Regions from separate parts of the Homo sapiens genome. Here all the other regions are linked to region 1. Evidence: fine-mapped expression QTL. A gene starts in region 1. Each other region holds a variant in brackets. All regions are shown on one strand. Distances are from middle to middle. Region 1 holds the start of SLC68A1 (solute carrier family 68 member 1). Region 2 has its middle 4.7 kb from the start of ELOVL3. Region 3 overlaps ACTR1A (actin related protein 1A).

What was found. PIP is the estimated chance that this variant, and not a neighbour inherited with it, causes the effect. A credible set is the group of variants that fine-mapping cannot tell apart.
Region 2: its variant is the best candidate, but not a certain one, in a credible set for the expression of SLC68A1 in whole blood (INTERVAL, PIP 0.50).
Region 3: its variant is the best candidate, but not a certain one, in a credible set for the expression of SLC68A1 in whole blood (TOPMed, PIP 0.67).

What each region holds. Positions count from the first base shown.
Region 1 is chr10:102,459,223-102,464,445 of GRCh38, forward strand. SLC68A1 (solute carrier family 68 member 1) reads left to right here and starts at 2,173. Exons shown (of 10, transcript NM_024789.4): 1 at 2,173-2,228. It overlaps LOC124902493 (a long non-coding RNA gene), which reads right to left. Exons shown (of 3, transcript XR_007062270.1): 3 at 1,571-2,838. RefSeq lists enhancers at 1,692-1,761, 1,889-2,572, 2,573-3,255 and a silencer at 2,032-2,251.
Region 2 is chr10:102,219,004-102,224,226 of GRCh38, forward strand. No RefSeq gene overlaps it. Among named protein-coding and RNA genes, the nearest start is that of ELOVL3, 4.7 kb to the right of the region's middle. The variant C/T (reference allele first, on the strand shown) is at 2,923.
Region 3 is chr10:102,488,853-102,494,075 of GRCh38, forward strand. ACTR1A (actin related protein 1A) reads right to left here. Exons shown (of 11, transcript NM_005736.4): 2 at 1,697-1,761; 3 at 211-286. Among named protein-coding and RNA genes, the nearest start is that of ACTR1A, 11 kb to the right of the region's middle. The variant A/C (reference allele first, on the strand shown) is at 2,145.

The DNA of each region.
Region 1 (5,223 bases):
ACCTCGTGATCCAACCACCTCAGCCTCCCAAAGTGCTGGGATTACAGGTGTGAGCCACCTTGCCTGGCTGTGAGGGACCAAAGGTCTTTTCTCCTGGGTCACATCCAGCTCTGGCCCCTGCCAGCCCTCCCCATTTCCATTTCCCCACTGGATACCCAGGGAGGGCTAAGTAAAGACTCGGGTTTGCTTTGAAATAAAAGCACATGCTGGCCACAGATAGAAAGGCGGGGAGACTCCTTTAGCAAATGTATGGAGATCCCAGTGTGCCGGACCCCAGGCTGAATGCTGGGTTTTCTGTTCTCACAGCCAGGAAAGCACAGATGGAGGTAAGAGGTGAGGAGAGGGACAAAATGATCACCTGTCTTCTACTCATGAGGCTTTCTGGATCAGGAGGAGTTTCAGCAGTTGTCTAAGTCTAGAAGAGAGATGGTTGTATGTATGTGTGTGCGTGTATGTGTGGCTTGGGGTGACATGGGAAGTGTGAAGGGTGTCCGAAAGAGAGAGATTGGGAAGGAGGGAAATGAGACAGGTTAGTGGGAGATGGATTCTGGGGGCAAGGTTCATGGCATCCCTGGGGGCTCCTCAGGAACTGGTTGAATAATCTGTAGCCCCTGGACACTAGGCGTCTACATTGGACCATTTGCTGTGGTTGTTAGGAGGAGGACAACATTCCTGTTGCAGGAAGTTAGCCGACAACCATCAATGAAGGTCATAAGGATGAGCAGTTCACAAAGCTCCTACACCCTTGTTTCTCATTTAATGTCTGAAAAATCCCTGTAAAGCATAAAACAGACTCACAAAAGGAGGGTCCCAGCCAGGTGCAGTGACTCACGCTTATCATTCCAGCACTTTGGGAGGCTGAAGCGGGAGGGTCCCTTGAGCCCAGGAGTTCAAGACCAGCCTGGGTAACATAGTGAGACTCCATCTCTACAAATAATTCTAGAAATTAGCCAGGCATGGTGGAGTGAGGTGGTGGTCCCAGCAACTTGGGAGGCTAAGGTGAGAGGATCATCTGAGCCAGGGAGGTGGAGGTTACAGTGAGCTGAGATCATGCCACCACTGCACTCTAGCCTGAGCAACAGAGCAAGACCCTGTTTCAAAAAATAATAATAAAGAAGTCCCTTAGCAAAGAAGTGTTGGAGCTAGGGGTTGAGTTCCAAGTCCCCCATAAGGCAAAGGCCACAGGCTTTTTGCCCTGTGTCCCAAGGTAGGGGAACCAGGCAGAGCTGGAATGTGTGCTGTTTGCTTGCCCAAAAACCTATCCAGGCTTACAGGCCAATTGGGAGAAAACATAAAACATCCTCCACAGCCTACATTGAGCCAAACAAAACTTGATTTTGAGGGATTGTGCAGGTGTGGGAAGAGGAAAGACTCTTGTTATGGGAGTCAGGATAGCGGGTTCCACCTCGACTGGGCCCTTGCTGTTTGCGTGTCATTGAATCTCTCTGAAATGCAGTTTCTTCACATATAAAATGTGGATAAAAGCGCCTACCTCCTAGGAATGATGTGAGGACTCAACAAGAGAATGCACGTGTTGTTCTGAATGTAGTACGGTGCACATAGCAAGCACTCAGTACTCCTTAGGTTTTATTATTGCCGTTATTAATACAAAGAGGTTGTGCTGCATGGTTGCTCATTCAGGCCCTGGTGGCTGTTTCCCACCTTCAGCCCTGGCTCCTGTGGCTAGAGCCCTGGTGCCCACAGCTCAACCTGGACCTGTCCACCCTTGAAGGGCTCATGATGCAGCATCAGGGAGTCCCAGATCGAGCCGCTGACACCTCCAAGTCGGCTGCAGCTGTGCATCCGCTCAGACCACAAGACTCAATGGAGGATGCTGACCTCTCTTTGTTCTCCCAACGAGTACTAGGCAAGGAGGGAAGGAAGGTGAGCGCTTAGAAAAAACGTGTTGGTTTCAACTGAAATGACATTAAGCTATCGTGGAGGTAAAGGAGAGGGGTTGAGCCGGTCAGGAATCCAGGCAACCTGACCCTATTTGCCAGTGTCCGCTTTTAATTTTGGTCGCTAAGGGCAAGCGCCCGTGACAAACATGGCGGCGGCAGCCTCAGGCGCAGTCACCTGCCGGAGCTGCGCCCGGGGGCCGCGCGGAGCCAATCGCTGGGCGGGGGCGGAGGGAGAGGCTGGGGAAGCCCTAGAAGTGCGCGCAGGCGCATTGGCTCGCACCTGGCTCCCGCCAGCCGTGGGATTAGGCTTCGCCGGCTACGATTGCGGTGAGACGCTGGCCAGCGGCCGGGGCTCGCGGGCAGGAGCGGGCTGGGCTGGGGCCGATCTGGCACAAACGACAGACCCGAGGGGGAGGGGAATGCTTTGCGCTCTGGGAGTCATGGGGGCTATCTGCGGGGGTCTTTGGGGTGATCATATTGTGGATTGGGAGAGTTGTGTGGTCCGGGCGGAAGAAGCGGGGTTCAAGGGGGCAAGGGTGGAATCCTCGCAGAAAGGCTCTCCGGGGGTCTGGAGGAAAGGGATGCAGTGGGTCAAATAGCTCCCTGGTGGTCTGGGATCGAGGGATGCACTGGTCAGGTCGGGATCCGTGCCATTAGCATAAAGGCATTTAACCCTGGTGGCACTTGGGGAGCTTTGAAAAACACCGATGCTGGGCCCGCCCGAAGAGATTCCGATTTAACTGTTCTGGGTGAGGCCTGGGCCTCGGTATTATTGCACAGCTCCTCAGGTGATTTTAACGTGCAGGCGGTGGGGAGCAGCCCTACACGTGTTTCAGCACCAGCTATTGAGTGAAGAGCTCCTGGGCTGATCCCAAACTCCTCAGTGGCTTGGGAGGGGTGGGTGGTCCTGAGGTGAAGCTGTCGCCTCTTCTGGGACCTGTGGGGGAGGGAGAGGGAGAAGGTCCCCATCTCAACAAGTTGAAAGCTCATTTCCAGCCGGAGGAGGAGGATGGGCCCCCACCCCCCAACCCTGGTGCTAGACCCTGCTGTGGGGAGACTGGGCAGGAAGACAAGACCCCGAGAGTGAAACAGGAAACACAGCAGACAATTCAGGGGTCAGCTGCCTGTTGAGAAAAGGGCACATATTATACCTTTCATGTTCATTTGTTCATTTGGTATTCCTGAGGATAGGCAGAGAATGGAATTGTTTTCTCTGCTTCACAGATGTAGGAATAGACTCAGATAGTAAGTTAAAGATAATGTTCACACCTGACCCAGGGCTCCTGACTCCAAATTATGCCTCTTCTTAGCTTTTACCTCTGCACTAATGTCTCTTGTACAGTCTGATACCTCTCACTCCAGGGGCCCAGTTCGGCATTCTTGGTTTCCGCCACTAAATTCATCAACCTCCCCCACCCACCATAGGTTGGTTCAGAAATCAGGGAGATGTTGCTGCTTCCATCCCTTTCTAGTCTTTACCTACCAGGGGCCTGGTAGGGTGAAGGGGAAGAGTTTTGACACCTGCTAGAGGGCTTCTTCCAAACAGATCTGTCACTTCCCCACCCCCAGCGCCCCACCTGTTGTCCTCAGCATAGAATCTTGCACAAGGTTTACAAAACCCTTCCTGATGTGGCCCCTTTCTCCCGCGCTGCTCTGAGCTCTCTTCCCAGATTGTTTCTGTGTCTCTTAGCACAGTGCTGTGCACCCGGCGAAAGCTTAATAAATGTTCCTCTGTTATGATCACTATTCTTCTTTGTACCTGCTGCCTTGCTTTAGTGTCTTACTCAGAGAGGCACATCAAGCCTCCCAGGCTGCCCCTTCTCTCTGACTCCCACAGTTAAGCAGAACACAGAGCTAGGAGGGGCACAGTGGGGTCTGAAGATGACAGTTTTCCTATGACTGCTGCTGCTGTTCCCTAGGGCTGAGGATGTTGTTGATATTGACCTTTTAGGGGCCAATCGACCCAGCAGGGATTGACTGAGCAAGCTGAGGGAGCCTGGTGGAGGCAAAGGGCAGGGATCAAGGGCGGGACTAACCCAGCCCTGCTTTTTTTTTTTTTTTTTTTAAGAGACGGAGTCTCACTCTGTCCTCCAGGCTGGAGTGCAGTGGCGCGATTTCGGCTCACTGCAAGCTCCTCCTCCCGGGTTCACGCTATTCTGCCTCAGCCTCCCGAGTAAGCTGGTACTACAGGCGTGCCCGCCACCACGCCTGGCTAATTTTTGTATTTTTAGTAGAGAGGAGGTTTCATCGTGTTAGCCAGGATGATCTCGATCTCCTGACCTCGTGATTCGCCCGCGTCGGCCTCCCCAAGTGCTGGGATTACAGGCGTGAGCCACCGCGCCCGGTATCAGCCCTGCTTTTAAGAAGCCTGTGGGCTGGAGGAGGGGAAGGGAGGCATTTGGATGCCTGATAAGGGGGAAAACGGGAGAGAACACGTGATTGGGTGTGCTTGGGAAAGCCGTGACACTGGATGAGCAGGATTTGATAAGATGGGGGCAGGGTGTGGGGGGGATGATGAAGTGAGAACGCTGTTGTTTTAGTCAAAACCTGTTTTGAATCTTGACTCCAGCACCTACTAGCTTTGTAACTTGGGCCTGTTATTTAATCTTCAGAGCCTTGGTTTCTTCATGTACAGAACGTGAATGCAGATAGTAACAGAGCTGTAAGGGGTCTGATGATGGATATAAAAGCCAAGCATACCCTGTATGGCTGAGGAATAGTATATAGTTATCCTAGGGTATCTTAGGTGACAGGAACAGCATGAACAAAAGTGTGGAGGTGGCATTTAGAAAGGAATTTGATGGATGGCAGACAAGAGGGGCTAGGATATTCCAGGTGGCAAAAGGCATAAAGCTTGGGTGCTGGAAAGACAATTTCAATCATGGATTTGGCAGAAAGGTCAATGATTTTTATTTTTGATTGATGTTGCCCCAGCTGGTCTCTAACTTCTGGCCCCAAGTAATCCTTCTGTCTTGGCCTTCCCAAGTCCTAAAATTACAGGCATGAGCCACAACGCCCCACCTAGTGACTGATCTTTAAAGATCATGAAACCACACGGTGGCTCTCGCCTGTGAGCCAGCACTTCAGGAGGCCAAGGCGGGCGGATTGCTTGAGGTCAGGAGTTCAAGACCAGCCTGGCCAACGTGGCGAAACCCCGTCTGTACAAAAAATACAAAAATTAGCCAGGCATGGTGGCGCACGCCTGTGATCCCAACCATTTGGGAGGCTGAGGCAGGAAAATTTCTTGAACCTGGGAGGCGGAGGTTGCAGTGAGCCAAGATCCCACCACTGCACTCTAGCCTGGGCGACAGAGTGAGACTCC
Region 2 (5,223 bases), 240 kb before region 1:
TGCAACAAGCTACTTACAATAAAGGAATAATAGTCTATTTATGTATTACTTGTGATTGGCCCTTTACTGCAAATAACAAATGCCACTAAATGCAAGCATTTACAAAAGGTTTACAATCCAGTCTACAATCATCAGAAACCTGCTCTACAAATCACTGCTTTTTTTAAAAAGTATTTAATCATTTTTTTAATTGACAAGTAAAATTGTGAATATTCATGGGGCAAATAGTGATGTTTTGATACATTATAATGTATACTGATCAGATTGGGGCAATTAACATCCATCATCTGGAACATTTATCATTTCTTTGCATTGGGAACATTCAATTTTTTTAAAAAGCTGGTTTTCATGGGGAAGAAAACCACACTTATTAATATTTTCTGTGTCTGGTCAAGTACTCTTTATATATAATTAACAGTCTCAGCTGGGTGCAGTGGCTCATCCCTATAACCCTAGCACTTTGGGAGGCCAAAGAGGGAGGATTATTTGAGCCAGGAGTTCAAGACCAGCCTTGGCAACATAGCGAGAACTTATCTCAAAAAAAAAAAAAAAAAGCTGATGTGGTGACACATGCCTGTCATCCTAATTACTTGAGTGGGTGGATTGCTTGAGCCCAGGAGGTCAAGGTTGCAGTGAGCCGTGGTTGCACCACTACACTCCAGCCTAGGCTGGACAGAGTCTTGCTCTGTCGGGATCTCCACTCACTGCAGCCTCCACCTGCCGGGTTCAAGTGATTCTCCTGCCTCAGCCTCCCGAGTAGCTGAGATTACAGGCATGTGCCGCCACACCTGGCTGATTTTTGTATTTTTAGTAGAGATGGGGTTTCACCACATTGCCCAAGCTGGTCTCGAACTCCTGACCTCAGGTGATCCACCTGCCTCGGCCTCCCAAAGTGCTAGGATTACAGGCTTGGGCCACCTCACCTGGCCTTTTTTTTTTTTTTTTTTTTTTTAGTCTTCCCAGACACTGATAATAGATAGGCATCTTTCAAGCTGATCCCCACTCGAGTTTATAGGTGGTTTGACAGCTGCCTCTCCTCAACGTTGCATCTGTTATGATGGTTTAATTGTTGAGTCAGAGCCAGTGAACATTTATATTTCCTACCAACTACCTTGAAGTAAATATCTTGGGAGCTGCTGGCCTGGAAAGGTTGTGAGAAGGCTCCTGGCTTCTTCTTTGTCTCACTTAACATTTATTTTAAGGTCAAAGCAATATCTGCACACTACTTTCTCTTTGGTCCCCCAGATACAGTGAGCCCCTTGGTCCAGTCCTCTCCATGTCCTATATGTAGTTTCACCCTAGATCAGATTTTGTGTCTTGGTTCTCAGACCAAAACGGGAACACTGCATGATTGTTTTCTGGAGCCCATCCATCGTGGATGCCAGCCTTGTATCCACATAGGAGTTGAAGCTCCTTTTGTATTGTATTTCCTGAATCACCACTAAGCGAATACAGTCTTTTCTCATCTAGGCTGGGGATGTTGAAAATGCTCAGCCTTCTATAGAAATTCTTAAGTTCTCATTAACACATTTCACAAAAGGAAATGAGTATTATTTGACATGGTTCAGATGGTGTTTTAATGGTCAGCATTTGAATAAATACTTGCATTATAATTTGTCCCTTTAAAAAAGTTGTAGCTGAATGTAACTTATTAAATGTTCAGTGGAATGTAAAAATATATATATATTAATACATACAGATTTTTTTTTCTTTTGGATTATTTCACTGGGTTGAATTCCTAGGTGAGACACTGGGTCAAAGCATACCAGCTCTTGCTAAGTGTTGCCTAAGTGTGTTTCTACAAGGATTATATCAGTTTACTTGGCCACTAGCCAGGTGTGATTGCACCTGTTTCCTAAAGCTTTGACTGGCATTAGGTATTTAATTGCTGCTTAGCTATTAATTGGGACCACACTATACATACAGTCTTTAATTTGCATTTCCTTAATTACTAAGAAAGTTGAGTCTTTTAAAAAAATGTTTATTGTTTGTATTTCCTCTTAGGTGCCTACTCAATTCAAAGCAACAGACATATTTTGAGTGCCCACTATGTGCCAGGTAGTATGTGCTACCCTCAAGGATGAGTGACCTAGTGAAAATGACCATTTGGGATAGGGTGAGGGAGCCAGAATAGTACAGAAAATATATGACTGACTGTCCTCCACAAGTAGAAGCACAATACTGGCAGGCAGTTTGGGCAAAGTTTTTTGAATGAAAGACAAAGAAGGAAGGGCCTGACTCTGAAATATATTAGGCTTTTGCAGGGCAAGTGACTTTAGAGCTAGAGCTAGAGTTAAGATTTGTCCAGGTGAGAAAATGATGTATGGGGGGAGAGGGAAAGATGCGTAGAGAGGTAAAGGGGTAAGTATGTAGAGTTGTCCATTATGGCTACAATGCGGAATGCTGGGGGGAGAGGGAAAGATGCGTAGAGAGGTAAAGGGGTAAAAGTATGTAGAGTTGTCCATTATGGCTACAATGCGGAATGCTGGGGCTGAGGGATGGTGGGATTTTGGCTGGAAATGAATGGTCAGGGCTAAACTCAGGAATCTGATCTTTGTCCTGAGGATTATTTTTGTTCTTAATGAGGAATGACATGAGCTCATGTGTTTTAGAAAGACCTTTCTGGCAGCAAATGAGAGGCAGATTTGGAGACACTGGAGTGTATGAAATGAGCTTGTTTGTATCCTTAGCCATTTACCAAGGGTCGAAGATAAGACTATGAATAAGATTTTTGTGTAGTATGCACATTAACCCTTTATCTGACCTACTTAAAACAACATTTCAGGCCAGGCACAGTGGCTCACGCCTGTAATCCCAGAACTTTGGGAGGCCGAGGCGTGTGGATCAACTGAGGTCGGGAGTTCGAGATCAGCCTGGCCAACATGGCAAAACCCCGTCTCTACTAAAAATACAAAAATTAGC[C/T]GGGCGTGGTGTCGCACGCCTGTAATCCCAGCTACTCTGGAGGCTGAGGAAGGAGAATCGCTTGAAGCCGGGAGGTGGAGGTTGCAGTGAGCCGAGATCGCGCCACTGTACTCCAGCCTGTGCAACAGGAGCGAGACTCCATCGCAAAAAACAAACAAACAAACAAAAAAAGAAGGTAAAAATGTCGCTTTTTTTGTAAATAATTACTGATGCTTACTCAACTCTTTACATTGTATAATGCTCTTTATTTATTTATTTTTAAATTGAGACAGAGTCTCACTCTGTTGCCCAGACTGGTCTTGAACTCCTGGCCTCAAGTGATCCTCCTGCCTTGGCCTCCCAAAGTGCTAGGATTACAGGCATAAGCCATCATGCCCCGCCAATGCTCTTTAACATATATTATTTCATTTGATCCTCATAAACATCCTTCTGAAGTAGTTATCTCCATTGTACAGATGAGAAAGCTGAGGCCATGATATGTTTGATGATGTCTTCGCCAAGGTTACCTAGGTAGTAAGTGGCAGAGATAAAATCTGAATATAGGCATTCTGATGACCATGCCACCTCCAGAAGAAATGACAGGACCTTGTGTCCTATAGAAGAATATAACTTGACCTCACAATTTCTAGCCTGAAAAATTATATAAATAGTGGCTGGAAAAATCAGCCTATTTTGGAGGTAGATAACAAATTCTGTTTGGGGTGTGTATTGCTAAGGATGCTAGCAGAACATACCGGTAGAGATGTCCAACAGGCAGTTGGAAATAGGGAGAGAAAGAAGTTGGGTTGAGAACTCATAGACACAGAAGGCAGCTACTTGGCACCAGGTAATACAAGTGATTGGTGTTCTATAAACTTCCAAAGCCTGCTCAGTTATTCATCTGCTCACACCATCCCATGCTTAGCGCTTCTTCCTCTATGTTGAGGCTTTCAGGAGGGCTACTGGGGAAAAAAAACAAAACAAAACCAGTGACCACACAAAAGATAGGCTTGGAGTATTTATCCTGGAGAATAAATAATGTCACTCAGGTTTACATGCCAAGGATTTCATCCATTCAATCACTTGCGCAACAAATATTACCTGGGTTATGCTCAGGGTTAGGAGAATGATGAAAAAAACAGACATATTCCGGCAGTGGCTCATGTCTGTAATCTCAGCACTTTGGGAAGCTGAAGTGGGCAGATCACTTGAGGTCAGGAGTTCAAGACTAGCCTGGCCAACATGGCGAAAACTGTCTCTACTAAAAGCACAAAAATTAGCAAGGCGTGGTGGCACACATCTGTAGTCCCAGCACTCAGGGGACTGAGGTACGAGAATCGCTTGAACTCAGGAGGCAGAGGTTGCGGTGAGCCAAGATCAGGCCACTGCACTCCAGCCTGGGCGACAGAGCAAGACTCTGTCTCATAATAAAAAATTTTAAAAAATAGACATAGTCCCTGCATTCATGGAGCTCAAGAACTAGTAGGAAAAACAGGCATTGATCAAGAAATCACAAAAACAACTAATTATAAACTCTCACTGAAGAAAAGAAATACCATGCTCTGAGAACAGTTTATATAAAATAAGGGTACCAGACCAAGTCCAAGGGTCAAGGAATGTTTCCTCTAGAATATAATTTCTGAAGATTTTTCCTCTTCTTTTTTCTTTTTTGAGACAGAGTCTCGCTCTGTTGCCCAGGCTGGAGTGCAGTGACACAATCTCTGCTCAGTGCAACCCACGCCTGCCAGATTCAAGCAATTCTCCCTGCCTCAGCCTGCCAAGTAGCTGGAATTACAGGTATCCGCCACTACACCTAGCTAATTTTTGTATTTTTAGTGGAGATGGGGTTTCACCATGTGGGCCAGGCTGGTCTTGAACTCCTGACCTCAGGTGATCTGCCCACCTCAGCCTCCCAAAGTGCTGGGATAACAGGCGTGAGCCACTGCACCTAGCTTTTTTTTTTTTTTTTTGAGACAGAGTCTCACTCTGTCACCCAGGCTGGAGTGCAGTGGTGTGATCACAGCTCAGTGGCACGATCACAGCTCACTGCAGCCTTGACCTCCCTGGCTCAAGTGATCCTCCCTCCTCAGTCCCTGAGTAGCTGGGACCACAGGTGGGCGCTACCATGCCCAGCTAATTTTTGTACTTTTTGTAGAGATGGATTTTCACCATGTTGCCCAGGCTGGTCTCAAATTCCTGGGCTCAAGCAATCCCCCCACCTCAGCTTCCTACAGTACTGGGATTACAGGCGTGAGCCACCGTGCCCAGCCCCGAGTGTTCTTCTTTCCCTCTTCCACATACACCTCCTCCAAGCCTCACCAT
Region 3 (5,223 bases), 30 kb after region 1:
GGTCCCAGGTATTTTCTTCTCCAAGACCACAGGCTGTTCCTGGGAAAAATAAACCACCTAAGCCTAGGATGAGAGAATCAAAAAGGAGATTTTCAGAGAAAGTTGCCCCTTTTACTTATGGGTATGTCCAAATGTTGGGACATGTTCCATGTGGTGAATAATGAAGGTCCTCTGCTGGCTTAAGGCTTGTTCTGTAGGCCTGGGAATTACCTCAGCTTTGGGGCCAATGAAGATGTCGCCTTCAAGGGCTCCTGCCATGACACGAACGTGCTTGGGTCGGCCCACACTAGAAAAGACAGTGAGGAGGACCATCATTTTTCATTTCATGACAGAACACAGGAAGGATGTATAGATGTACATACACACTCAAATTCTACTGAGATTATCTTCAAGGAGTGAAGTCACAGTTGATTTTGATTTTCTTCTTTATACTTTTCTGTATTTTCCACAATTTCTAAAATGAACATGTATTATTTATATATTATTTCATATTTTATATTTATTATAAATTATGAAAACAAATTTTTAGAGTATTTAATACCTCTAGTTCTTCTCTTTCTGCAGTGTATGAACAGACCAAGAAAGATGAGGAAATGAGAATTTCTAAAGGAGTGATTAACTCAAAACATTTTAGTGTCCTTAGTCCCCTTCCCAGGACCTCTAAGTAAAACTGATGCTGGGCTGGGCTCGATGGCTCACACCTATAATCCCAGCACTTTGGGAGGCTGAGGCAGGTGGATCATTTGAGGTCAAGAGTTTGAGACCAGCCTGGCCAACATGGTGAAACCCCATCTCTACTAAAAATACAAACATTAGCTGGGCGTGATGGCACATGCCTATAATCCCAGCTACTTGGGAGGCTGAGGCACGAGAATCGCTTGAACCTGCAAGGCAGGAGTTGCAGTGAGCCGAGATTGCGCCACTGCACTCCAGCCTGGGCTACAGAATGAGACTCCATCTCAGAAAACAAAAAAAACTGTGATGCTATAGATCGGACAGATAGCCTCTTCCTTTCCTCCCCCTTTAAGCCCTTCCTGTAAGCCTCTGTGCTCTTCTCCTGCCTGCAGTCTCTCTGTCTTAGGAGGAAAGTTCTGAGAAACTCCTCATTAAGATGGTAGAAGGGCTGTAATCCCAGCACTTTGGGAGGCCGAGGCAGGCAGACCATGAGGTCAGGAGATCAAGACCATCCTGGCTAATACGGTGAAATCCCATCTCTACTAAAAATACAAAAAAATTAGCCAGGCACGGTGGCAGGCGCCTGTAGTCCCAGCTACTCGGGAGGCTGAGGCAGAATGGTGTGAACCCGGGATGCAGAGCTTGCAGTAAGCCAAGATCACACCACTGCACTCCAGCCTGGGCAACACAGCGAGACTCCGTCTCAAAAAAAAAAAAAAAAAAAAAAAGATGGTAGATGGGTTAAATGTTAATCCCCAGCCTGGGTGATAGGAGAATTTTAAAAGGAGGGCTCCACCAAGAGGCAATCCTCCAAAGCAATAAGTTACCAATGATAAAATTTTTTAGCATCAGATAAAATTGGATTTTTAAAAAGAGGCCTCTTATCTGTGCCTCTCAAATTGTACCATGTAGACAACTGTTTTCCTTTGTTGACTCCAAACTCGGCTCCTGTCCCTTATAGGGCTGGGCCTGTAACAAAGCTGATGAGCCTCCAAAACGTCTAAGCTACAGAATGACTTACTAGTTTGGAAAGCAGTATTTGGGGATCTGATCACCAGCAAAACCAGCTTTAATCACACCGGATCCCTGAGGAAAGAGGAGAGAGAATGAGGAGTCAGAACTATCACAAATACAAAAGGAAAAATACATTATATGGTACCATTTTTATTTAAGAAAAGAAAGCGGCCGGGCGCAGTGGCTCACACTTGTAATCCCAACACTTTGGGAGGCAGAGGCAGGCGGATCACTTGAGGTCAGGAGTTTGAGACCAGCCTAGCCACCATGGTGAAAGCCTGTCTCTAGTAAAAATGCAACAATTAGCTGGGCATGTTGGCAGGCACCTGTAGTTCCAGCTACTTGGGAGGCTGAGGTGGGAGAATCACTTGAATCTGGGAGGCAGAGGTTGCAGTGAGCCAAGATTGTGCCACTGCACTCCAGCCTGGGTGACAGACTCTGTCTCACAGGAAAAA[A/C]AAAACAAAACTAATATTTGTATATAATATATACATTTATTTGAACCTAGAAAAAGGTAAATGCACACCAAAAGAAGGGAAGTGGAAATAGGATGGTGAGGAGGATTCTCACTGTATACACAACCGTATGTGTGATTTTTCTGTAGTCTCTGACTTTTCTACATTGAACATGTTTTGCTTTGGGAATTAAAAATACTAGTAATAAAGGGAAGAAAAAGACAGAAAACCTGGGGAAAGAAGAAAGTACCTAGAAGCATCAAAGCAGCCAAGTTCAGGAACATAAGGTAGGAAAAGCACATGACTCCTTGTTACGCCACCCTGGGGTGCTTTTAACCTACTTTCCCAGCTCAGGCCTGAACTCTCCCAGCTTCCAGGGCCTCTGTGACAGACACCGCCATGAGCACTGTCATGCTTGAAATGGACTCCCATGGAACACGTGCTGTCTGGTTCTTATTGCAAGGGCAGAGCACGATGCTTTGGGAGATTTTTGTTGTTGTTTTCTTTTTAACTATGCTTTCCTTTTACTCCTTGGTCTCCTGATGGTAAAGAGAAGCAAAGACTAAAGCCTACTCTGAGAATAGAAGAGAACCACAGTCCTGCTGCTCCAACACTTGGTATGTCGAGTGAGGTGTCCAGAAAAGAATCTGAGTTCTCCCAGCATCTCAGGTACCACCCAGGGCCCAATCAATGTAAACAGTGACTCTGGACACAGAGACCAACCCTGTGCAGGACAGATGTCAAGGCTTAGTATTGCTTGTAGATACACCCTGTCCTCTTCCTTTTTTTTGAGATGGAGTCTCGCTCTGTCGCCCAGGCTGGAGTGCAGTGGTGCAATCTGGGCTCACTGCAAGCTCTGCCTCCCAGGTTCATGCCATTCTCCTGCCTCAGCCTCCTGAGTAGCTGGGACTACAGGTGCCCACCAGCATGCCTGGCTAATTTTTTTTTTTTTTTTTTAGTAGAGACAGGGTTTCACCGTGTTAGCCAGGATGATCTCGATCTCCTGACCTCGTGATCCGCCCGCCTTGGCCTCCCAAAGTGCTGGGATTATAGGCGTGAGCCCACCGTGCCCGGCCTTTTTTTTTTTTTTTTTTTGAGACAGAATCTCGGTCTGTCACCCAGGCTGGAGTGTGGTGGCACAATCTCAGCTCACTGCAACCTCCACCTCCTGGGTTCAAGCGATTCTCCTGCCTCAGCCTCCTGAATAGCTGGGATTACAGGCGCGCACCACCATGCCTGGCTAATTTTTGTATTTTTAGTGGAGATGAGGGTTCACCGTGTTGGTCAGGCTGGTCTCGAACTCCTGACCTTGTGATCCACCTGCCTCGGCCTCCCAAAGTGCTGGGATTACAGGCATGAACCACCGCGCCTGGCCTCTTCTTCCTTCTTAACTCTTCTACCACCACACCTGATACCCTCACCTTTCTAACCCAACATGGTTTGCAGCTGCACCCGTAGCTGGGGCAAGCCTTTTCCTGCTGCCTGTTGACCACTCTCCTGGGGTGGAGTGTGGTATTTACTGACCTCATTCTACAAGCACTGAACACACCTGGAGACTCTAAGTAGCCAAGGTTATCTGCACCAAAGGCTTCCCAGCAACATGCCTGCTTCCCTCCTTGACTCTCTTATTCCTGCTCTTCTGCAGGAAGAGGGGGAGTGAGACTGGCCATCTGGTGCTTGCCTTTGGCAAGACAGAGGTTGGTGGAGGAAGCAAGTGGTTGAAGGAAGCCAGGTGTGGTGGCTCACGCCTGTAATCCCAGCACTGTGGGAGGCCGAAGCGGGGCAGATCACATGAGGCCAGGGAGTTCAAGGCCAGCCTGGCCAACATGGCAAAACACTGTCTTTACTACAAATACAAAAATTAGCCAGGTGTGCTACACGTCTGTAATCCCAGCTACTCAGGGAGGCTGAGGCAGGAGAATCACTTGAACCCAGGAGGTGGAGGTTGCAGTGAGCCAAGATCGCACCACTGCACTCTAGCCAGGGAGACAGAGTGAGACTCCACCTCAAAAAAAAAAAAAAAAAAAAAAAGAAGTGGTTGAAGGGCAGAGAAAGTGGTATGAGAGGAGAGCAGGGCAGCCAGTTCTCTAAGGGAGCAGGAATCTTTGCCAACAGAAGAGAGTGAAAACAGAAGACAATGTGCAAACTCATTGGACTGGGCAGTACAACAAGGAGCCTGGAAAAGGTGCAGCTGTCAAGTGAGCTGAAAGACTGGGAAGGAGGGGCAATTTGCCTACAAACCCAAGGGCTCTGAGAGCAAGGCACGGACAGGCAAGGGGGGAACTCCTAGAACTTGTTTGCTCAGGCTTCCAATGATTGCTCACTGCCTTCATCTGGGTGTGGTGATGCCAACAGACTAATTGGGTCTCCCGGCAGAGGTTAAAAACAAGAGAGGATGAGATCTGTCCTTCAGACCCTGGATATTTTTAAGAGATGATTTTCCTGGGTATTTTATTTTTAGTTTACTAGCAAAAGGACTAGAGTCTGGGTAAACAGGCAGATTATGAAGTCAGATTTGTTTTTTCTTCTCTGTCCTTCCTAGCAAAGAGTATAAAAAGCCCAGTTCAAATATCATCACCTTCCTCCTGAAGAAACATCCCCAGTTGGAATGAATGATCATCTTCCTATTATCTCACAGCAAATTTCCATTACCTGTACCACGAGGTGGCATGCACTTCATTCTGCTTTTTATTACAATGTAAGGTTTCCACTTTCGTCTCTTTTCAGTTGAAGTTCCTTAAGGCTAAAATACATTTTGGCAGTATCTGGCATTTGCTGGGTACTCAACAGATGCTGGCTGAGTAAAATTAAAATCAAGTGCAAATGACTGGCAGATAGAACCTAAAGTATGGAACCTGAATGACCAGCTGAAATGACAGAAGCCCCAGGCAGAGGCGGTTCAGCAAAGGGGAAAGCAGCACTGGGAGTGATGCACAAGGTGGAACCAGACCCAGCGTGTCCTTGCAGCCCCCAAGCAGGCCTGCCATGCCAGTCATAGGGTGAAGAATCAGTGGAGAATGAGGAGCAGCTGAGCTGCCTCAATTCTGCTCAAGCCACACAAATTCTGCTCAAGAGCATACAA